Linked DNA regions of Homo sapiens: regions 1, 2, 3 and 5 are each linked to region 4. Evidence: fine-mapped expression QTL. A gene starts in region 4. Each other region holds a variant in brackets. All regions are shown on one strand. Distances are between the middles of the regions.

Region 1 (4,000 bases), 79 kb after region 4:
TCCTCCCTTCCGAGACGCTGTTTCTGGGAGGCCTCCAGACCCCCCCACTCCCCCAGGTCCCTCTGAGCTGAGGGGGCTGAACTGCCCTTACCTGGTGAGGCTTGGAAGGGGTGAAGGCTCAAAGATGAGGCTGGCACAGCCTCTGTCAGGGACCACGTCCCTTGGAGGGCAGAGACCCTGGGTAGCAGTGCCGGTGGGGCAGTGGTGCTCAGCCCCAGCACCACTCCACAGTGCCAGGGGCCAGTTTCCCGGCCACGCAGTCTGCCTGGTCTGACAACTCAGCTGGGATTGGGGGTGTCGAAAGCCACTTGCAGTTGGCCAAGAGACTCCCCAATCCCATTGCCACCCTGTCATGCCCCAGCTTTGGGCCCTGGGAAGGGGGCCTTGGAATGAGAGTGGAGGGGCGAGCGTCCCTGGCCGCTGTCCATACTCGTCAGCGGAGGCCCAAGCGCCCACGCTGGACCCGATTCCAGAAGGGCCCACCTTCTGAAGACACGAAGAAACAGCTGACGCGAGAAGACAGAAAACAGGTGCTGTCCGCCCGGCTCTGGGTCTGGAGTCACCCAACTGGTCGAAATGCATTTGTGACGGCTCCGTTTCTTCTCGGAATCCTTCTGCTTCACATTCAAGTCATTGGTGAAGCTGCCGCTTGGCCGAGCGCCGTGGCCCACACCTGTAATCCCAGCACTTAGGGAGGCTGAGGCGAGAGGATCTCTTGAGCCCAGGGGTTCGAGATCAGCCTGGGCAACCTAGGGAGACCCCCATCTTGACAAAAAAAAAAGTTAAAAATTAGCCAGGCATGGTGGCACGCGTCTGTAGTCCCAGCTTCTCAGGAGGCTGAGGTGGGAGGATTGCTTGAGCCCAGAGGTGGAGGTTGCAGTGAGCTACAATTGCACCACTGCATTCCAGCCCGGAAGACAGAGCAAGACCCTGTCTCAAAATAATAATACAATTTAAAAATTAGAAAAGCCACCGGTCTCCCCTGCGGCCTTGCTTAGGGGCCTCTGAGGGGAGGCTCTCTGTGAGGAGACAGAGCCCAGGCCTCTGCATTCTGAGGCCAGCGCCCTGCCCGCCCAACAGCTCCCCCACACATGACGCAGGCCCTCCTCAGGGTCCTCCGCTCTTGGACACGTCTGGTGACTTTCCTTTGCTGGCTGGAGAGGTGCTGGTGGTGTCATTGGGTAGTTCGTGGCAATCGCTGCCCAGGGCCATGTCCTGCAGGAGGTGGGGCCTGGCACGTGTCCTCCGGCAGGGACCAATGTCTGTGGCTAACGTGTGGTGACCTTGCAGTGGCCTTGGGCTGCAGACTTTGTCATATTCTATTGGCTCAGTTAGGCCCCCACTCAGCACAGCGAGCTCCCCGCCGGCCTCCTGGGCGCGTCTTTCCCAGACAGCTGGGGGGTGGGGGCCAGGGTGGGGAAATAGGGACGCCCAGCCCCTCCTTGTGGGCCTGCTGTCCCAGCCAGCCTTGGGCTCTGGCCTGCGCTCTCCCCATCCCCGCCGACCCCCCTGCCCCCGTCAGGCTGAGATTGGACACAGCATTTGCAGCCCCAGCCCCAGGGTCCTCAGAGCCACCCAGTGTGGATGGTTCAGCACGCTCCACCTGGTCCCACTGTTCT[G/C]GGAGACAAGAAGAGAAAAATGCAGGTTAGAGAACAGGCCTGCACCAGTGGAGGGCTTCCTACCCCTGCAGCTCCCCGTGGGGTCCAGGCAAGCGATGTGCCTTTGCCACTGACTTTCTGATGAGAATCGGCTGTGATTCGGGGCAGGAGTGAGAACCACGCGGCTGCACTGCCCTCGGCTGTGGTCTGGGCCAGATCTAGGACCCTTCTCTGGGAACCCACTTTTTTTTTTTTTTTTTTTTTTTTGAGACAGGGTCTTACTCTGTCACCCAGGCTGGAGTGCAGTGGTGGGAACACAGCTCACTACTGCCTCGCCCTCCTGGGTTCAAGCGATCCTCCCACTTCAGCCCCCCATGGAGCTGGGACCACAGGCATGCACCACTCTCCCGCACCTGCCTAATTTTTTTTTTTTTTTTTTTGTAGAGACGGGTACGCTTTGCTGCCCAGGCTGGTCTTGAACTCCAGGGCTCAAGTGGTTCCTCCTGCTTTGGCCTCTCAGAGTGCTGGGATTCTAGGCAGGAGCCACTATGCCCAGCCAGCCCCATTTCTAATCTCCCCAGAGCTCCCTCCGGACCCTGGGCCTGCGGAGGAACTCGGGCCACAGAGCACTTCCTTAGGAGTGGGTCTAGCCTGGCAGGCAGACAGGGCATGGGCAGACATCAGTGATGGAGGTGGAATCCTCACCAGCGGGCCCCTAGGCAGCCCCTACCCAGGCCCCAGGAAGGGCAAAGCTGCACCGATCAAAGCTGAAAAAAGCCGGGGATCCAGCAGACCCTGAGGCTCCAGCACGTTGAGAGTAGATCAAAAGATCCTTTCAGCAGGGTGCCAATGCTTAGACGCCATCTGGGAGTCTGGGAGCCTTCCGCAGACCTGTCAGTCTCTTCCACGTACTTTATTCTCTTAAAAACTCAGTCTGTAGTGTTTCAAGTTCTTAGAAAACACAAAGTCCTCAGGAAAGCTTAGGGAGCTGCCTCTGCCCTGTGCCTCTTCCTGGGCAGCTGGACGGAACCCTGCCTGCCCACCCCAGGGTTTGCTTCCGGCTGCCTGTGCCTCTTCCCGGGTAGCTGGACGGAGTCTGCCTGCCCGTCCCCAGGGTTGTTCCCGGCTGCCCGGGCTCTTGTGGACCCAGCTGTGCCAGAGGTGATTCTGCTCCAGGTAATGGCTCCAGAGTCCAAGCACAGCTTTGCCAGAGCACAGTCCCGTCCCTGCTGCGTCTTCATGTCCACGTGCCATCTGTGCTGTCACCCTTGGAGCTGCCTGACATCCCCCATCCTGTCCTGTGCTGTCCCCTCCGGGGGTGGGGACTCCAAAGAGAAAGGCTCAGGCATCCCTCTCATCCGTGCTCATCTTGTTCCATTTCAACTTCTTGTCTTGAGTCGTATTTGTGCATCAGCTGTGGCCCCGGGGATATGGGGGAGGGCGCGGCACCCCTCGGGGGACAGGTGGCTGAGCCCACAGCAGGTGAACCACTGTCTGGCCCAGGGGATGGCCAGCTGCTCTGCAGGGCCCATGGGTGTCCATCTGCAGCCCTGCGGGAGCCGTGAGCCTAACCTGCCTTCTCTGGATGCCCCCATGCCAGGGCTGGGCTGGACGCTCTGCCACGCTGTGTCCCTGGGTGTGGGCCTGGCCTGGTGGGGGAGCCACCAAACTGGTGTGTGCCCGGTTCAGGCCTGTCTTGAATCCCCAGCCTCAGTGGTGATGTCCGCCCCTCACTGGGAGGTTGTGGCTGGCCTGCCCCGCCCCACCCCGCCCTGCCCTGCCCAGCCCACACTGCTGGGAGGGTGATGGATCGGGGTGGGGGCACCCTGCCTTGTCTAGGGCACATAGTGGACTTGGGGGTCAGGCAGCCTTGCAGACAGCGCCTGGTCCTCCCTGCCCCGCAAAGCAGCGTATATTGTCTGTGAGCTCTGTGCCCTGAGATCGGACCGTAGGCATCCAGCACTGGGGAATCCCTGGGGCATCGGGCAGCCCAGGTGGCACAATTCACCCATGGCTTCCGCCCTAAAAATTAAAACCACGTTTTTCTCTTTCAGGAATCCCTTTGCCCACGTCCAGCTGAAGCCGACAGTGACCAACGACAGGTCTGCCCCCCTCCTCAGCTGATGGCCACATCTGCAGTGCTGCCCATCTGGTGGCTTCCCCCGCCCTTCCCATGTAGCCTGTTCTGTCATCATCTGTGCGTTCCTGTGTAGAGAACATCCAGGCCCCGGCTGCCTGGTCTTGCCCCACTTGAGTCTGGCCTGGACTGGATCCCAGCTGTTCTAGGCAGGGCCGGGCAGAGTGGGGCGCAGGCCCCTGAAGGGCGAGACCCAGTGGCTGGGCTGCCCAGGGCTGAGGGGCCGCCTCTTGAGGGTACACGCCTCTGGTCACATGGCCATGGA
Region 2 (4,818 bases), 28 kb before region 4:
AAGTCCCCTGTCCTGCCCTGTAGGTGGAATCTATACCTTGGGGTCTGTTCTGACGTTCACCTAACAGCCTTTCCAGGCTCAGCTGTGCTATTGTATGGACCAGGGGGTTGTTTTGTTTTTGTTGTTTGTTGATTGTGTGTGTGTGTGTGTGTGTGTGTGTGTGTGTGTGTGTGAGCCTGGCGTGGTTGCGGGCGCCTATAATCCCAGCTGCTCAGGAGGCTGAGGCAGGAGGATCACTCGAGCTCAGGAGTTTGAGGCTGCAGAGTTGATCATGCCACTGGACTCCATCCTGGGCGACAGAGCAAGACTCTGTCTTTTAAAAAAAAAAACGGGGCTGGGCGCGGTGGCTCACGCCCGTAATCCCAACACTTTGGGAGGCCGAGGCAGGCGAATCACGAGGTCAGGATTTCGAGGCCAGCCTGGCCAACATGGTGAAACCCCGTCTCTACTAAAAATACAAAAATTAGCTGGGCATGGTGGCGGGCGCCTGTAATCCCAGCTACTAGGGAGGCTGAGCCAAGAGAATGGCTTGAATCCGGGAGGCGGAGGCAGAGGTTGCAGTGAGCCGAGATCGTGCCACTGCACTCCAGACTGCAGCCCTGGTGACAGTGCGAGACTCTGTCTCCAAAAAAAAAAAAAAAACAAACAAAAAACAATAAATAACAAGGTCGGCTGAGGTGGCTCACGTCTGTAATCCTAGCACTTTGGGAGGCCGAGGCGGGTGGATTACCTGAGATCAGGAGTTTGAGACCAGCCTGACCAGCATGGAGAAACCCCGTTTCTACTAAAAATACAAAATTAGCCAGGCGTGGTGGCGCATGCCTGTAGTCCCAGCTACTCGGGAGGCTGAGGCAGGAGAATCGCTTGAACCTGGGAGGCAGAGGTTGCAGTGAGCCGAGATCATGCCATTGCACTTGCAGCCTGGGTGACAGAGCAAGACTCTGTCTCAAAAAAAAAAAAAAAAAAAGACTCAAAAAAAAACAAAAATCAGCCAGGCGTGGTGGTGTACACCTGTAGTCCCAGCTACTCTGGAGGCTGAGGCAGGAGAATCGCTTGAACCCATGAGGCAGAGGTTGCAGTGAGCCGAGATTGCGCCACTGCACTCCAGCCTGGCAACAGAGCAAGACTCCGTCTCATATAAAGAAATAAAACAAAAATAAACAAATTTTAAAAACAAACACATTCCTATACAGGTTTCTGTGTGGACAGCGTCTGCTCTTGGGTCTGCACCTGGGAGTGGAATTGCTGGGTTGTGTGGTAACTGGATGTTCACCCATAGGATGAACGACCACACTCTTTTGCACAGTGGCCGATGGTTCTGGTCTCTCTACAGCCTCACCAACTCTTATATTCTTTTTGATTACAGCCACTCTAGCAGGCATGAGGTGGTACGTCATTGTGGCTTTGACCTGCATTTCTCTGGTGTCTAATGGTGTTGAGCATTTTTTCGTGGGTGTTACTGACCATTTGTATATCTTAGAGAAATGTCTATTCAGATAATTTGCCTATTTTTAATTGGGTTCGTTGTCTTTTTATTGAGTTGTAATACTTTATTCGGGATACTAGACCCTTATTAGACACATGATTTGCAAATATTTTCACCCATTCTTTGGGATGTCTTGTTAACCTTTTTGATGGTGTCCCTTGAAGCACAAAAGTTTTTAATTTTGATGAAATCTAATTTATTTTTGTTGTTGTTCCTTGTGCTTTTGGTGTCATAGCTAAGGAACCCCTGCTTAATCCAAGATCATGAAGATTTGTGTCTATGATTTCTTAACAGTTTTATAGTTTATTTATATTTATATAAATATGTTTTTGAGACAGGGTCTCACTCTGTTGGCGAGGCTGGTCTTGAACTCCTGACCTCAGGTGATCTGCCTGGCTCAGCCTCCCAAAGTGCTGGGATTGCAGCCGTGAGCCACCGCGCCCGGCTTGACTTCTTCCTTTTATATGTGGGTATTTTTCTGTCCCAGCGTCATTTGTTAAAAAGACAGTCCTTTCTCCGTGTAATTGTTTTGGCACCGTGTGGAAACCCGCTGCCTGTAGCCAGGAGCTTCTTTCCAGCCCTCAGTTCTGTCCCATTGCTCTGTGTGTCTATTCTTACGTCCTCATGGCAGCCTTGTAGTAAGCTTTGAAATTGGGAAGTGTGAGTTCTCCAACTTTGTTCTTCTTTTTCAAGATTGTTTTGGCTATTCTGGGACCCTCAAATTTCCATGTGAATTTTTAGGATAAGCTTTTCAGTTTCTGCGGAGGAGCCAAGTGAGATGTTGATAGGAGTTGCGTAGAATCTGTGGATGTGTTTGGAGAGTGCCGCCGTCTCCGCTACATTAAGTCCAGATCCGTGGATTGAGGGTGCCTTTCCATTTATTTTGGTCTTCTTTACTTTCTTTCAACCAAGTTTTGTAGTTTTCAGAGTATAAATTTTATACTTGTTTTGTTCAGCCTATTACTGTTTTATTTTTGGTGCTATTGTAAATGAAATCTTCTTAATTTCAATTTCAGATTATTCACTTAAATATACAGAAATACAGCTGATTTTGTATATTGAGCTTGTCTCCTGCAATGTTGCTGAACTTGTTTATTAGGGTTTTTTTAAGTGAAATCCTTAGGACTTTTTATATACAAGATGAGGTCACTTGTAAAGAGAGATAGTTTACCTCTTAATTTCCAACCTGGATGCCTTTAATTTCATTTCCTTCTCTAAGTGCCTGGTTAAAGCTTCAGTACAATGTTGATTAGAAGTGGGTATCTTAGGCTGGGCGCGGTGGCTAACACCTGTAATCCCAGCACTTTGGGAGGCCGAGGCGGGAGGATCACGAGGTCAGGAGATCGAGACCATCCTGGCTAACAAGGTGAAACCCCGTCTCTACTAAAAATACAAAAATTAGCCGGGCGTGGTGGCGGGCACCTGTAGTCCCAGCTACTCGGGAGGCTGAGGCAGAAGAATGGCGTGAACCCGGGAGGCATGGTGGTGCATGCCTATAGTCCTA[G/C]CTACTTGGGAGGTTGAGGTGGGAGGATCATTTCAGCCCAGAAAACGGAGGCTGCAGTAAGCCATGATCGTGCCACTGCACTCCAGCCTGGGAGACAGAGCAAGACCCTGTCTCAAAAAAAGAAAAACTGTTCTGAAGCACAGTGTAGTCTAGTACTGTGGCATTCCCACCTGTATTCCTGCTTGTTCCATTTACTTGAGAAACATTTTTTTCATAAATAATATGAAAACATATCCATCCCAGTTTCTGTACATTAATTCCAGACTAAGAGCATTTAACCTGAGTTTAGTGGTAGATTTAAGGACACTCATGAGAAAAACCTCCATTTATACAAGAGGAACAGGACCCTTCCTTATCTCGAGGATGATGTCCCGCAGGAGACGCCTGCTCTCCTCCAGACAGGCTCTAGGGCTGTTCATCTGACCTGCCTTGGAATGTCTCACGTGGCTGCGACGCCAGCCTTTCAATCGTCTCCCATGGATGAAGCCATCGTGGGTGTGTCTTTGGTATGTGTCTCTGTTGCTTGGTCTGCCCTCTTTTTTTTGAGACGGAGCCTCACTCTGTCACCCAGGCTGGAGTGCAATGGCCCAATCTCAGCTCACTGTAACCTCCGCCTCCTGGGTTCAAGCGATTCTCCTGCCTCAGCCTCCCAAGTAGCTGGGATTACAGGCATGCGCCACCACACGCAGCTAACTTTTGTGTTTTTAGCAGAGGCGGGGGTCTTGCTCTGTTGCCCAGGCTGGTCTCAAACTCCTAGGCTCAAGCAATCTGCCCACCTTGGCCTCCCAAAGTGCTGGGATTACAGGTGTGAGCGACTGCGCCTGGTCCAGGAAGGGAACTTTAACACATAATGGATAAAGCTGGACCCTCAAGCAAAATAGGAATATTTAAAATCCATTGTTTTGGATTAACTGCAGCATCTCCAGATTATCTTTCCTCCATTTTAAAGTTACCTACAAAGGGTCCATACCTTGATGGTAGCATCAGCCCTCCACAGCCCATCTCTTTCTTTCTTTATTTTATTTTTATTTTTTTGAGACGGAGTCTCGCTCTGTTGCCCAGGCTGGAGTGCAGTGGCTTGATCTCGGCTCACTGCAACCTCTGCCTCCTGGATTCAAGCGATTCTCCTGCCTCAGCCTCCCGGATAGCTGGGATTACAGGCGTGTGCCACCACACCTGGCTAATTTTTGTATTTTTAGTAGAGACGGGATTTCACCATGTTGGCCAGGCTGCTCTCAAACTCCTGACCTCGGATGATCCGCCCGTCTCGGCCTCGCAAAGTGCTGGGAGTACAGGCATGAGCCACCACTCCCGGCCAGCCAGCCCATCTCTTTCACTGTTACAACTAACAACTCAAATCCAGGAAAAACAAAGCACCCCCCGCCCCCGCCACCACCGCCCTGCCACTGAGGACTCTGCAAAGTAAACCAGTAAACCAAAGCTGTGGAGGTGGCCCCTGTGGGGAAGCCGTTTCCTGGTTTTATCTTCCCTTTTCTCTCGTAGCTTTGCCCCAGGATGGGCCTCAGTTACGGAACTGCACAGAAACACGGAAAGCTAAAACTCCCATAGAAACCTTGTCCTTTTGGCAAGAGAAATTGTGAACAGGGGCCACTGAGGTCCAGAAAGCGTGTGGTGGGGGAATCCCAGAAGGGAGCGAGTGGGAGAAAGAGGCCTTGGGACTCTGAGGAGGAACCAGCAGCAGCCCCGGCTCCCCCACCCGAGCTGCACCTGTGTGGGGTGCACTCAGAGAAGCAACAGGAATTGGCTTTGAAAGTGGAACCTCGACTGGAGCAGAGGCAGCAGAACTTTGTGGTTGGAACTAACCAGG
Region 3 (4,000 bases), 38 kb after region 4:
GCCTTGACACCAAGGTGGCTCTTTGGACTTGCTTGGTTTCAGAACTGTGTGTGGGGAAGCAGCGTCAGCTACCGTCATCACCATGGCAACACAGACATTGATTTTTTTTTTTTCCCCCATTGGTTACCCGCTGGCCACATTCCATTTTTGCCTTTTTTGTAGGTGGGAGAAGAACTCTGCTTCTCCCAAGGAGAAGCTGGTGGCTGGAGGGCAGCAGAGAGAAGGGGCGGGATTGGGAGTCACCCCCGAGGTGGCGTCCTTGGGCTTTGGGTCAGCACTGGATCTGGTCCCCTGGCCCCTGTGGGGGCTCTGATAGCAAGATGTCCTGTCAGCCCCCTGGCCATCTGTCCTTCCCCGTGATGAGGGCGCTCTGTTCGAGCCCTGCCCAGGTGGGTGGTGATGAGCTCTCGAGGTGCCTTTGGGCTCTGGAAGCCACCAGGATAATTGAGAGTTGTGGATAGCTACTTCAGAAGGCTCTGGAAGGTGATGCATGCTCACAGCCAGCTTGGAGCAGCTGACCTCTCGCACAGAGCCCCTCTTCCACCAGCAGAGAAAGGAGAAGAGTTCCAGTGCCTCCGGAAGCAACAGAAATATCCAGGAAACGAGTGTTTCTGTGCCCTCAGTGTCCACTGGCCAAAAAGAGCACCCTGACCACTCGGTAGCAGCGCCCGTCCGTCCCTGAGCCTCTGTTTGAGGGACTCACGTCCAGCTCCCGGCAGACTCAGCGCGGGGGTCGGATGCCTTCTCCGCACCATCCCGCACCGCCACGAGCTGCTGTGGCTCACATTCTGCCATCCGAGCTCTGTCCAGGAGGCAGCCGAGAATTGGAGCAGTTCCCACGCCAAGTAGGGCCTTGTGGGTGGCCGGTCCCCTCCTCCAGCGTGGCACGGAGGCGCCGGAGCATGCAGGTCTATGCCTCTGCAGAGTCTGGGGCATCTTGTTCCATTTCCTTGCTGCCTCTCCTCTCGTCCGTGATCATCCCCCCCTCCCCCTCTGCTTCCGGCCTCCCCGGCCTTCCCAGTCTCTTGGGCCATCATCGTGGTTGTGTTGGTCCTGTTGCTCCTCCTTCGAGCGCCCACGTAGGGCTGGGGTTCCCTGCGGGCTGTGGGTGCCGTGCCCTCCCCGGCTGGCTCCAGCCCTCAGAAGCTTGGGGAGGGTGGGCTGGGCCATCTGCATTCCACCTGCCCAAGGGCTGCCACTCCCTTTTCCCAGATGGCTGGAGTGCCCCAGGGCAGCGTTGGGAGACCTGCGCAGGCCCCACCTCAGTCCACAACAATGTTCCTTGATTCCCTCCGGCTTCCTGCTCCTTCACCTCCTCCTGCGCAGCCCGGCCTGACCCATGTAATCAGGGAACAGGAGGGGCTCTCCTCAGTGTCCCTATGTCCATGCCTTGTGGCCACCTGAGCACTTCTCAGGGTCCAGTGGAAAACTCTCCTGCCCTGTTTGACGCCCACACTCGTCAGTTTCACCTTGGTGCCAAGAGCAGACGATCTGCTCCAGGCCCCACTTGGGCCACAGCCTCACAGCCGTCTCCACGTCCCCACCCGAACCTGGCATTTCCTGAATTCCTGGCCCCTGTCCGAGAAGGAGGCTAACCCTCCTGGGAGAGCTCTGGCAGGTGCTGACCCAAGTCCGTGGGGTCTTCAACCTTTGCAGACACCTGCGCCCAGAGGCCACGCCTCCCACTCTGAGCACAGGCGGGCGGACGCTGTCTGGCAGGCTCTGCCTTTCTTTCATTTTTCCTGACCTCTTCGCCCAGCGTCCTCTGCTTGGAGGTGGGTGTATGAGAAGGGGCCATTGGTGTCAGAGTGGGGCTGTCTGCTGAGCAGGTGAACACACCCCCAGTCCTTGCTCTGGGGCCGGGCTGTCCCGTGGGCCTCACGGACCTCATTGTCTGTGGTCATGAGCCTGCATCTTACTGATTTAATCCCGGGTGCCGGGTACAAACATGCACGCTTCCCTGATGAGAAAATGGCATCTGGCCTGGAGCCCCTTCCCACAGCCCTGGGTATTGGGTGCCTGTCACCTCCAGGATGACCCCCAGCCAGCAGACAGGTAGCAGGTGGAGGGTACCTGCTCTGGGGCCCTGGTGGCCCCAGTGGGTTGAAGCTCTCTTCGTAGGTGGCGTGGGGCCTTCTGTCCCCATGACCCTCCAGCGGCCCCTCCCCATGCCAGGGCTCAGCACCCCTGCTCCTCAGAGATCGAAGCCTCCTTCTCGGACCTTCCCCACCACTGTGGTCCCAGCTTCCTGTGCAGTCTCTTGGTTACCCAGGAGTTCAGAACTTTTACCACCTGGGGTGCCTTTCAGATACTCGGACCTCTTGGTTTGTAGGAGTACCAGGCCGGGGTGGGGAGGTGGAGGCTGTGCTGCTCCCCTCACCCTGGGCTCAGCCAGGGCCGCCAGCCTTCTTCCTGGGAGCAGTCACCAAGCTGGTCTCGGGCCGTGCTTTGGTAGAAATGATCTTTTAACTGACTAAGC[A/G]GAGTGTTAACTGAAATCATCATGAAATGCTGTTTATGCTCCATTTGGGATTCGGAGTCAAGCATTTGGGGACCCTCGGGCAGGGTCTGAGCTGCTGTTTGCCCTCGCAGATGAGGACGACGATCTGCACAGATCTGCCTCCAACCCTGGGCTGAGAGCATCCGAGGCCCAGGCTCTTCCCTCCCCCAGTCTTTTTCACTGTCTCTGAGATTCACGCTCTCTCTCAGGTTCTTGTCACTCGCAGACTATAAGAACACGTTGTATTTTCTGGAGTAAAAAAAGGCACAAATCTTTAAAATGTCACTGTTGTGAAAGCCGAAGTGTGAGGGGCTCTTCTAGGTTAAAGGACTAAAGATGCCCAGCGCCCCAGAGGAAGGGTGAGAGTCCTCTGGGAGCTGGCAGGCGCCAGTTCCTTGTCGCTCACGGTTAAGCCCGTGTATCACTTATTTGTCTCAAGTGCTTATGGAGCAGTCTTCCAATAGGTGGAATGCTGATTTGTTTTCCTAAAATGAGAGAGACTAAAGCCACGTGCCAACGCAACACAGCGGGACCCTTGATGAGAACCTGGATCAGGGAGGAGCTTGTCAATGGCATCGTCGGGCCATTCAGGAGCATGGTGTGTGCTGTTGATGAGAGGAGGATGCGTCTGTGGTAACCTTCCTGTGTGTCACAATGGAGGCGTGATGAGGCAGAGAAGGTCCTTGCTCTTAGGACACAGCTGCAGTATTGGGGGCAGGGGCAGCATCACATTGTCTGATGTCTGCAGTTGAGTCTCAAGGGGCTGAAAAAAGTGCCTGTGTGTCTGTGTGCATGCATGGATACGTGTGAGTGCCGGTGTGTGTGCATGCACGGATACGTGTGAGTGTGCGTGCACTGGTACATGTGTCACTGTGTGTGCGTGCACGGATACGTGAGTGCTGGTGTGCGTGCATGGATGCGTGTGAGTACGTGTGTGTATGCACAAATACATGTGAGTGCCAGTGTGTGTGCATGCACGGATACATGTGAATGCCTGTGTCTGTGCGTGCATGGATGCGTACGAGTTGCCTGTGTGTGTGCACGTGCACAGATGTGTGAGTGCCTGTTCGTGTGCGTGCATGGATGTGTGAGTGCCTGTGTGTGCGTGCACGGATGCGTGAGTGCCTGTGTGCGTGCACGGATGCGTTGAGTGCCTCTGTGTCTGCGTGCACGGATGCGTATGAGTGCCTGTGTGTGTGCATGCACGGATGCGTGTCTGTGCGTCTGTGTGCGTGCACAGATGCGTGTGAGTGCCTGTGTGTGTGCACGGATGCATAAGTGCCTGTGTGTCTGTGTGCATGTACGGATGCGTGTGAGTGCATGTGGGTGTACCTATACATCACAGAAAGAGTGGTGAAGCGATTGTGGCAAAGCACACCGCCAGGGAACCTCGGCGAAGTGAATGGGTGTTTGCTCTGCTATCCCTGCAACTTCTCTCCAGGTTGGAAAGGTTGGGCTGGGAAGAGAATAATGTAGTTCTGTTTTCTAAACCACAGGGAAGAA
Region 4 (4,154 bases):
TCACCACGTCCTGCTCTGCGCCTGTCATCGGCCGCGGTGTGTCTCCTCAGGTGCCGAGCTGGTCACTTCCATGTACAGCATGGATAACCGTCTTCTCAGGGAAGGCCTCCAGCCCGCATTCAGCCACCTGCCCAGCCGCCGGGCGGAGGGAGCAGGCTCAGGCACCGAGACTGCTGAGCCACTGGCCACCCGGGAAGCAGGCTGCGTTCTGAGTCGGTCACCGAATATGTCCCCCCTTGGACGGGAGTAGCGCAACGATGTGCAGGCCAGCTCAGGAAGTAACGCTGGGAGCTTCTAGAAGGTGGAGCGGGATCCAGGACCGTGGGAGCTTTTCCGGAGAAGCCTACCTCTCCTGTGTTGCAGCTGATGGGAGCAGCAGGGCCTGGAGAAGAACTGTCCCCAGGCTGACTCCCCTCTTGGAGTGAGGAGGCCTCCCGTGTTTGCCTGCCAGCCTCCATCTGTCATCTTGGTTCCAGCCATTCAACTTTCCTCCAGGCGAGCAGAGCTGCTCTACCCCCACCTGCTCCGTGTTGGCCCCAGACCCAACTCAGGCCAGTGGACGTCTGTCCTAGGGCTGCGTGTGAGATCGGTGGGTGCAGGGAACACAGCAGGAAGCTGGCCTAGAAGAAGGGGGTCAGGGTCAGTGGAGATGCTCCTACCTTCAGGTAAATGCCCTCATTTGTTAGGGCCAGTTTGAGCGAGCTTTCTGTCATTTACCACCAAAAGAATCCTAGAAAATAAATACACAGGGATCTACCCCCAAACACTGGAGACAATAAAGAAAAAGGAAGCAGCCAGGGCCAGTAGCTGGAAGGAAATTCAGCCGGAGGAGAGGAGGCGCGGGGCTGTGGTGGGAGGGAGGCAATGCTTCCTGAATCTTACTTCCCTGGTCTTTCCATCGGCCTGAGCCCGTGCCAGTCTGGGGATCTGCCGGCCAGCCAGCACAACTGCGTCTCCCCCAGGGGCCTGACTCGTTGAAGGAATGAATGAATGAATGATTTTGCAGGGATGGGAGGCTGGGAGACTGAGAGGTTTCATTAAACGGAAACGCTCAGATCTGGTGTTTCACAACGTAAAACAAATAATTCCTCTATGTTAGCCTAATTTATGTAAATATTTCTCCACGGGAATTGTACCGGGAGACCTGTGTGCCAACTCGGCCAGCTTCCCCGGCAGAATCTCCCCTTGGGAGGACCCTTAAGCAGGACCCTTCCTAAAAATTGGAGGCAGCTCTGACTCCTCCATTCCTCCTACAAGGTTCCCCCACCCCCTAGGGCTTTCCACCGCATGAGAGTCCTCCGGGCCCCTCGTTTCCTACTGCCCTCGACCCTTCCTTCCCGAGACCTCTCTCTCTCAGTAAACTGCCTCCAACGAGAATCTTCTGACGGCAGGAGGGTCCTCCCCGTCCCTAAGGGTCGCCCTGTCCCCAGGCCTTCCAGCAGGACACTCCCCTGTCCCCTCTCCAGATCCTCCTTCCCAGGGCCCTCCTCCAAGATCCTCTTCCCCAACCCTCCTCTCCCAGGGTCCTCCCCTCTCCAGAATCCCGGCCCCAAGCCCCCAAGCGCTGTCTGCCTGTCTGGGGTCCTCCCCAGAGTTCACCTTCTGCAGGATCCTCCCTCCAAGTCCTCTCCTCACGATGCTCCCCCGAAATCCTCCTTCTCCAAGTCGTCCCCCACTCCAGGGCCGAGCTCTCTCCAGGGTCCTCCTGCAGCACCCCCTCCCCCAGGGTTCTCCTCTCTGCCCCGAGGGGCCGGCCGGGGGGTCGCCGCCCGCCCGGCGGGCTTACCTGCGAAGCGGCGGGGTCGGGGCCTCTCCCACCTGTAAGCCCGGCCCGCGGCGTCCTGCGTCCGAGCCGCTCCCCGCCCCGCAGCGCCAGGCCGCGACCCGGCGGGCCGCCCGCCCCGAAGTGCCACTTCGCGAAGTGCCGCCTCCACGCGCGCTGCCGCCGGCGCCCCCCGCTCTCCTCCCCGCACCTTCTGCTCCTTCTTCCTGCGCCACCCCGCCCCCGCCTCCCCGCCCCCAGCCCGGCTGTTGCCCGGGCCCCCTCAGGCTGCTCCCAGGGCCCCAGCCCGCGCCGCGCCTCCCCTCTCCTCCCCCAGGATCGACGCCGCCGCAGACCAATCGCTGCCTGGAGTCGGCCACTAGGCCCCACCTCCGATCCCGCCCCCCTCCCCCTTCTCCGGAACCCACCAATGGAAAGGGCGGTGCGGGGGCGGGGCCTGGCGGTTGCCTAGCAGCGGCAGCGCCGGGCGGGGGCGGGTGGTCGGGGGCGGTGATGCGGGCGCAACGGGGGCGGGACGCAGGGGCGGGGACTGCCGCGGGGCGGGGCCTGAGGCGGCTATAAAGGTGGCCGCCGCCGGACGCCGGGCTCTGTGGTTCGGGTCCGCTTTCGTCTCCGTCCTGCTGCCGTTACCGCCGCTGCTGCCGCCGCTTGCGTCCCCCGCTCCGGTCTGTGGTGCAGCCGGGACCCAGGACCATGTCTCTGTCTCGCTCAGAGGAGATGCACCGGCTCACGGAAAATGTCTATAAGGTGAGCGCCCCCCGGCGCCGAGCTGAGCCCGCTCCGTGTGCGCCTGGGTCGCGCGCCGCCCGCGCGCCCGAGCCCGACCAGGGCGGCCCCGGGGCCGCGCGCCGGGCCAGGAGGCTGGGACTTTGGGGGTCTTCCCGGCGCGGCCACCCGGGACCCGGGCTGCTGGGGTGGTGAGCCCGGCGCCGGCCGCTCACAGGTGGCCACCCCCGCCCGGGCCCCCCCATCCCATGCGCGCCGCGGCCCGGTCAGTCCCCAGCCCCAGGCCCGGGGAGCACTCCCCGCTCCGACGGCCCTGCTCGGCCCCCGCGCGCTCGCCTTGGCGTCGGCGGGAACGGAGCCGCGCGCCGGGCCCCGGAAGCCCTCGGACCGGTCGGGGTCGTAGCACACCCGGGCAGGGCCGGGGCGGCGGGGGCGGCGGGCCCAGGGGTTGCGGCGGCCAGGACGGCATGGGGGCTGTCTGAAGGCCGCGGTCGGCGCGGTGGCACCGTGGGGCTCCTCCAGGCGCGGTTGCGCGAGCCTCGGGCACTTCATTCTCAACAGGCTTTCCCTTCCCACAACTCCTGCCCGGCGCCCATGCTGGGGCCTAAGGTGGGAGGTCGGAGCGCGGGCAGGCTGGATGGGTGGACGGATAATCTATCATCTTATGTAACCGCGGAGAGAGAAGACTAATTGTGTAGGAGGCTGACGTGCCTGCCTTTGCTTCAGATGTGTTAAGAGTGGCATCCACGTTCTCGTCTGCGAAATGACAGGTTCACATCCAAGGGCCGCAGAGCACCGCTGGAAGCCTCCCCTGCCGCCCCCTCCCCAGTCGTTTTTGTGGCTGGGATACCGACAAACAGGCCCTTGGTTTTCTCTTTCTTCAGCATCCGTTCTCGGTCCAGACCCCCACGCCTGAGCCCGGCAGCTGCCGGGGAGCATTTTCTCAGAGGAGAAACCCCTGCTCTGGGTGTCCCTGGGTCCTGGGCGATCTCTTACAGATGTGCTTTGTTTCAAAACTGTCTGCAGGTTCAGTGACAGGCTGGGCGATGAGTGGAGTGGGTATTTACCCGGCAGTCGCTGGTTCATGTTTCCTAACCGGCTTGCACCCTGCCCGGCAGAGTAACTGTTTCTGATTGTGGTAGGCGGCCAAGGCGTGCCTGGCCAGGGGCCTGGGAAGCCCTCTTAGCTCTCAGGCTTGGGAGAGCCAGATGGAGGCTTCAGGGGTGGCCCCTCTGGTTCCAGCTGGAGTGCAGGGGGCCGATTGCACTTGAATACAGCTTTCAATAAAGCTTGTGAAGTTGGGGCCGCGTCAGTCTGGAAGGTTTCTGAAGGCGGGTGTGCGGTCGACTAGATGAGTCCTAAAGCCACGTCGGAGCCACTGGGAAACAGGATTCAGGGTGACCTGAGGAGTCGGCTTGGGAAAGGCACAGGCCCTGGGGTTGTTAGGTTTGGTTTCACAGAGTCTGTGGCATACGGTTCTGGCCTTGTTGCTCTGTGGAAGCACATGTTGTCAAGGGAGGGAGGTTTATTAAATTATTAGTCATTAGCTCCATTACGACTTGTTTGTGATTGCAGAGGGTGGAAGAGAAGTACCAGCGGAACCTTTTTCCTATTTTTTCTCCTTCTGCGCTGAAACCAGAAAGCA
Region 5 (4,675 bases), 37 kb before region 4:
CTGGCAGTGGGAGAGGACAGGGAGGAGCAGGTGTCAGGAGTCACCCTCACGCCCAGCAGCACCCGCCCAGCAAGGGTGTCATCCTGAACCCTGCCCCAGGGCCGGGAGGAGGGCACCCCGGATCCTCAGCACCTGCGTCTGCTCTGGTTTCCTTTTCAGGTTCAGAGTATTGAGTTCACCCAGATCGAAATGAAAGTGATGGAGGGGCTGCAGTTTGGAAATGAGTGTCTGAACAAGATGCACCAGGTGAGTCTCTGCAGGGCCAGGGGCATGGAGGTGTGGGGAGCCCATTGGGCTGGAGCTGGGGATAGGGCGGGGGGCTTGTCCCACGGTGTTCGTGTCAGACACAGGGCAAGAGGCTGGCAGGGGAGATGTGTTGGGTGCTGCCAGGCAGGCAGGGATGCAGTGACCGGGTGCAGCACAGGCTGGGAACTGTGGGAACTGGGTCCCCAGGCGCCGAAGTGACATAGAAGGGAAGTCTGAGGGTGGGGAGGGGGCTGGCAAACTAATCACAGAAGGCTTCCTGGAGGTGGCGGGTGTGGTGGCTCACACCTGTAATCACTTTTGGAGGCCAAGGCAGGCAGATCACCTGAGGTCAGGAGTTCGAGACCAGCCTGGCCAACATGGTGAAACCCTGTCTCTACTAATAATACAAAAATGAGCCAGGCGTGGTGGCAGGCACCTGTAAACCCAGCTACTCAAGAGGCTGAGGCAGGAGAATCTCTTGAACCGGGAGGCAGAGGTTGCAGTGAGATGAGATTGCGCCACTGCACTCCAGCCTGGATGATAAGAGCAAAACTCCGTCTCAGGAAAAAAAAAAAAGAAGGCTTCCTGGAGGAGGTGAATACCGGCCTCATCTCAGGCCGGGCATGGATGTGAAGCCCAGCGTGGCCATACCACGTTCCCCCACCAACCCCATCACACTCCTGACATGGGGGCCAGTAGGTGGGGCTAGTTGGAGAGCCAGGGACTCACCTGGCGGGAGGTCTGGCTGTGCTACTTTTCCAAGTGTTTGGTGAGTACTGGTGGTGTGTGCCGGTCAAGCACAAGTGGCCCTTTGACCTTTTGCCACTCAAAAGAAATCAAGTCACCTGCCCAGAATGTTCTACCTGTTGCTTGTTTTTACTGGCGGCTGTGAGAGCTGACTCAGGGTGAGAGGGGGCATCGGGCGCCAGGGCAGTGCAGTCGTGGCCTCTGAAAAGACTCATCAAACGGCCCCTGTGGCCTCAGGACAGGCCCATGCCTGGGACACACATGTCCTGGCCTCATTTAAACAGGGACAGGAGCTGGGTGTGGTGGCATGCACCTGTAGTCCCAGCTACTTGGACGGATCGCTTGAGCCCAGCCTGGGCAACACAGCCAGACCTTGTCTTTAAAAATAAATAAAAATAAACAGAGGGGTGAGGCCATGGCCCTGAGAGCCCAGGAGGCCTCTGTCGGGGGTCTACCATTGGCCTCGCGACAGGGGTCAACACCCATCACCCTCGTCCACAGGTGATGTCCATTGAAGAGGTGGAGAGGATCCTGGACGAGACGCAGGAGGCCGTGGAGTACCAGCGGGTAGGTGGCACCCTGACCGGCCTGCCCCCAACTGTGAGAACCCACAAGGCCACCCTCGAGGGCCAAACTGTCCCACATCCTAGAGCGGCCGCCTTCTCTCAAGGGGACGAGACCCAGCCACAGGCCATCTCCTTCCTCCCTGAGGGGCCACCTCCTCGCTGCTCTCACCACCGCCTGTCCTTTTGCAGCAAATAGACGAGCTCCTGGCAGGAAGCTTCACTCAGGAGGATGAAGACGCCATCCTGGAGGAGCTGAGCGCAATCACTCAGGTAACGGCCCCCCCGGGACTGAGCACAGTCACTCAGGCAGCGGGACCCCCAGAGCTCAGACCCCCAGGAGGCCCTGCCCATGGTGATCTCGTATGTGGTGTCCTTTAAGTAAATAGTCTGCGGTTTGTGACTGGTTTTCCTACCTGAGGTGACTCTGTTTTCAGGGTTGCTCACCCAACGGTCTGGTGCAGGCAGGCTGGCCCCGTGCCCTGGACAGAGCGGGGGTGCTGGGCCTTCCTGGCGCCTCGGCCCCTTTCTGTCCCCGGCTGTCACGGATGTGGTGCTGGCTTTCCCCAGCCGTGGCTGCTGACTCACGTCCCACATAGGCCCTCGCTGCGGGGGCCGCGTCCTGGCCCCAGGCTCACATCCAGGCTCTGAGTCTGTATTCACTCCC[C/T]GACACAGGGGTTGTCCTCTCTGTGGGCCCCTGCCTCAGTCCGCCAAATTCTCATGGTGCCCCCAGAGCCGGCCTCTGCCCCAGCCCTGCTGCCAGCTGCCCCGGCGCCCTGGTGCTGTGCGGCCCATGGTGCCTGCACCCACTTGCTTGTCCAGTTACTTTCTCCTGAGGGTCCGAGTCCTCCGGGGCCTCCAGGGAAGGCCAGCTGAGAGGCAGAAGCACCCGTGCTGGCTTAGGCAGCCAAGCTCGCTGGGACAGCGTTGTACCGCAGCCCACCCCGCAGTGGTGGACACCAGCGTGACCTGGGTGTCTGTGTCACCCACCCCTCGGTCCCTGAGAGCCAGGGTCTCTGGGGCACACCCAGGACGTCGCCTCCTTACAGCCCCTCAGCGCCCCAGGGTCTGTTGGGAGGAGCCTCCATGGTAGCGGCTGCGTCACCACCTAGGGGATTCTGGTGGCACCAGAAGCCGGGGCGGTTGCAGACTTGGGTCTTCTGAGCAGCACGTTCCTGTCCGCTTTAACTCCGGCTGAGAGCGGCTGACGGACAGGATCCGTGTCCTCTCGGGGAGGCCCAGGCAGCCCGGGGCAGACCTGTCACCTGCTCATAGCCTTACCCTTTGCTTCTTGCAGGAACAAATAGAGCTGCCAGAGGTTCCCTCCGAGCCCCTTCCTGAGAAGATCCCAGGTATTTCCATGTTTGATTCTTTTGAATGGTTGGAATTCGCAGGAGAAAAGTGGATTCTAGAAGGGAACAAGACAGAATGCTCCCAGGCCTTCCTGGGCCGTGGGCAAGCCCTGCTGCCTGGCTGTTTGGCTTGGGGGCGTGCGTGCCTGGCCTTGGGGTTGGGCTTGGGTTTCCCAGGGGTTCGGTAACTGGGCAACCTCATAAGAGAGCCATACCCCATTCAAAGAGACACATTCAGAAATCAGAACTGGGGAAAGGCTTCTTTAGCAGCACCAGCTCATTCCCAGGGTGTAGCCCAGGATTAGCCCTCAGCCAGGGATGGCTCTCCCCGTGGCACCATTCAGCACAGGCTCTCCAACCTGCCCACTGGGAAGCTGACTTTAGAACCGTCCATCCACGTTTGTTCTGTTCCTTTACCCATCTTTGGGGCTCTTCTCCTCTCTGAGTCCCGCTGGGAGGGGCTGTGCTTTCCTGGCCCACTGTCCCGTGTCCCTGGCCCTGTCTGTCAGCCCCATTGGCTTCCTGTTTGTCACTTGCCTCCCCCAGAGCTGGGCGTGCCCTTCCCTAGTGCGAAGTCCCCGGAACTGGCCCTTGCCACCCCTGTGGCCTCGTCCCTCTCTGGAGGTCTCTGCCTGTGGGTCTTTGGCGTGTCATAAACATCTCTGTTTCCTCCACAGAAAACGTCCCTGTCAAGGCCAGGCCCAGGCAGGCGGAGCTGGTGGCAGCTTCGTAACGTGGCCTCGTCTTGTGGGACTCACGGGGATGCCCCAGGGACTGTGGCCCACAGAGAGTTTGGGTCACGGCCAGCCCCTGACCGGGTTCCCTGGAGCCCAGTGCGCACGGTGCTGAGCAGAGCTGCAGCCACGCAGGCGCATTGCAGGAGGACTCCAGAGCGTCTCCTGGAGACCTTGAGCCTGAACGCACTCAGGCGCCACTGGCCTGCTCTCAGTCCGGATTAACTCTCGACCGAGCCCAGCTTCTGCCGGTTGTGGGCTCCCCCGGTGGCCGAGGCCCAGGCCCAACGCCTCTGGTGCTGTTCCCCTGCAGTCCCAGCCCCGCGTGGCTCGCGCTCGTCTGTGAGGAAGACACCTCCAGACCTTGGGGTCCCCGCGCTTCCTCTTGCTCCTCGCTGCTCCCATTAGCTGGTGCAGGCTTCCGTTAAGGGGTCCCTCCCTTGGCCTGGCTTCCCGGCGCACCTCAGCTTCCCTGCTGGTGGGGGGATCCCCAGGAGACCAGCATGTGCTGAACCTCTCTGTGCCTCTGCCTCCGCACCCTAGACACCCACCTCCAGTTTGAAGGTGGCGGGCCAGGGGCTTTCTTGCTGAATTGACGACTCCGAGAGCCCTGACTCCCGCCTTGCCACTCACGGCTCTGTCCACTAGGGCTCAGCCCTGCTGAGAAAGGACCTCCGATGCTTGGGAGACGCTGCTCCGGCAGGTGCAGCCCCGGAAGTTTGTCCATGGGGGTCCCCGCGGCTGGGGCTCATGGAACTGCGAGACCCGGGACCCTCCTGCCCTGCGGGTCCCCGAGCCACCAGCAGCCAGGACTGGAGGCTGTGGGGCATGGCGTGACTTCTCGTGCACAGGGCTGGTTTGGTTATGAGACGATCTCGCTGGGACCGCCCCTGCCCGTGGAAAGCCACAAGGACAAAGGGAGCGGCCACCTCGACCCCCAGACAGGCCGGCCCGTATTAAAGTTGGCCCTGCACGCCCACTGCCTCGTGGACTTGGGCGCAGTGGGCACCTAGGCGTGGCTCCCTCTGTGGGA

The links. PIP is the estimated chance that this variant, and not a neighbour inherited with it, causes the effect.
Region 1: its variant is the best candidate, but not a certain one, in a credible set for the expression of BAIAP2 in whole blood (TOPMed, PIP 0.76).
Region 2: its variant is the best candidate, but not a certain one, in a credible set for the expression of BAIAP2 in whole blood (TOPMed, PIP 0.74).
Region 3: its variant is the best candidate, but not a certain one, in a credible set for the expression of BAIAP2 in nasal epithelium (TOPMed, PIP 0.75).
Region 5: its variant is the best candidate, but not a certain one, in a credible set for the expression of BAIAP2 in blood mononuclear cells (TOPMed, PIP 0.58).

The regions. Positions count from the first base shown.
Region 1 is chr17:81,112,118-81,116,117 of GRCh38, forward strand. BAIAP2 (BAR/IMD domain containing adaptor protein 2) reads left to right here. Exons shown (of 14, transcript NM_001144888.2): 14 at 3,653-4,000. The coding sequence ends at 3,722. Among named protein-coding and RNA genes, the nearest start is that of MIR657, 11 kb to the right of the region's middle. RefSeq lists enhancers at 1-179, 180-679, 694-1,435. The variant G/C (reference allele first, on the strand shown) is at 1,620.
Region 2 is chr17:81,004,897-81,009,714 of GRCh38, forward strand. It overlaps LOC124904077 (translation initiation factor IF-2-like), which reads left to right. Exons shown (of 1, transcript XM_047437254.1): 1 at 1-4,818. Among named protein-coding and RNA genes, the nearest start is that of CHMP6, 15 kb to the left of the region's middle. The variant G/C (reference allele first, on the strand shown) is at 2,991.
Region 3 is chr17:81,070,999-81,074,998 of GRCh38, forward strand. The region is part of intron 3 of BAIAP2 (BAR/IMD domain containing adaptor protein 2); the gene reads left to right. Among named protein-coding and RNA genes, the nearest start is that of BAIAP2, 38 kb to the left of the region's middle. The variant A/G (reference allele first, on the strand shown) is at 2,480.
Region 4 is chr17:81,032,779-81,036,932 of GRCh38, forward strand. It overlaps BAIAP2 (BAR/IMD domain containing adaptor protein 2), which reads left to right and starts at 2,373. Exons shown (of 14, transcript NM_001144888.2): 1 at 2,373-2,530. The coding sequence starts at 2,477. It overlaps BAIAP2-DT (BAIAP2 divergent transcript), which reads right to left and starts at 1,941. Exons shown (of 2, transcript NR_026857.1): 1 at 1,787-1,941; 2 at 1-620. RefSeq lists a silencer at 2,009-2,318 and an enhancer at 2,190-3,185.
Region 5 is chr17:80,995,513-81,000,187 of GRCh38, forward strand. It overlaps CHMP6 (charged multivesicular body protein 6), which reads left to right. Exons shown (of 8, transcript NM_024591.5): 4 at 160-246; 5 at 1,495-1,560; 6 at 1,749-1,829; 7 at 2,854-2,908; 8 at 3,586-4,621. The coding sequence ends at 3,641. Among named protein-coding and RNA genes, the nearest start is that of CHMP6, 6.0 kb to the left of the region's middle. The variant C/T (reference allele first, on the strand shown) is at 2,224.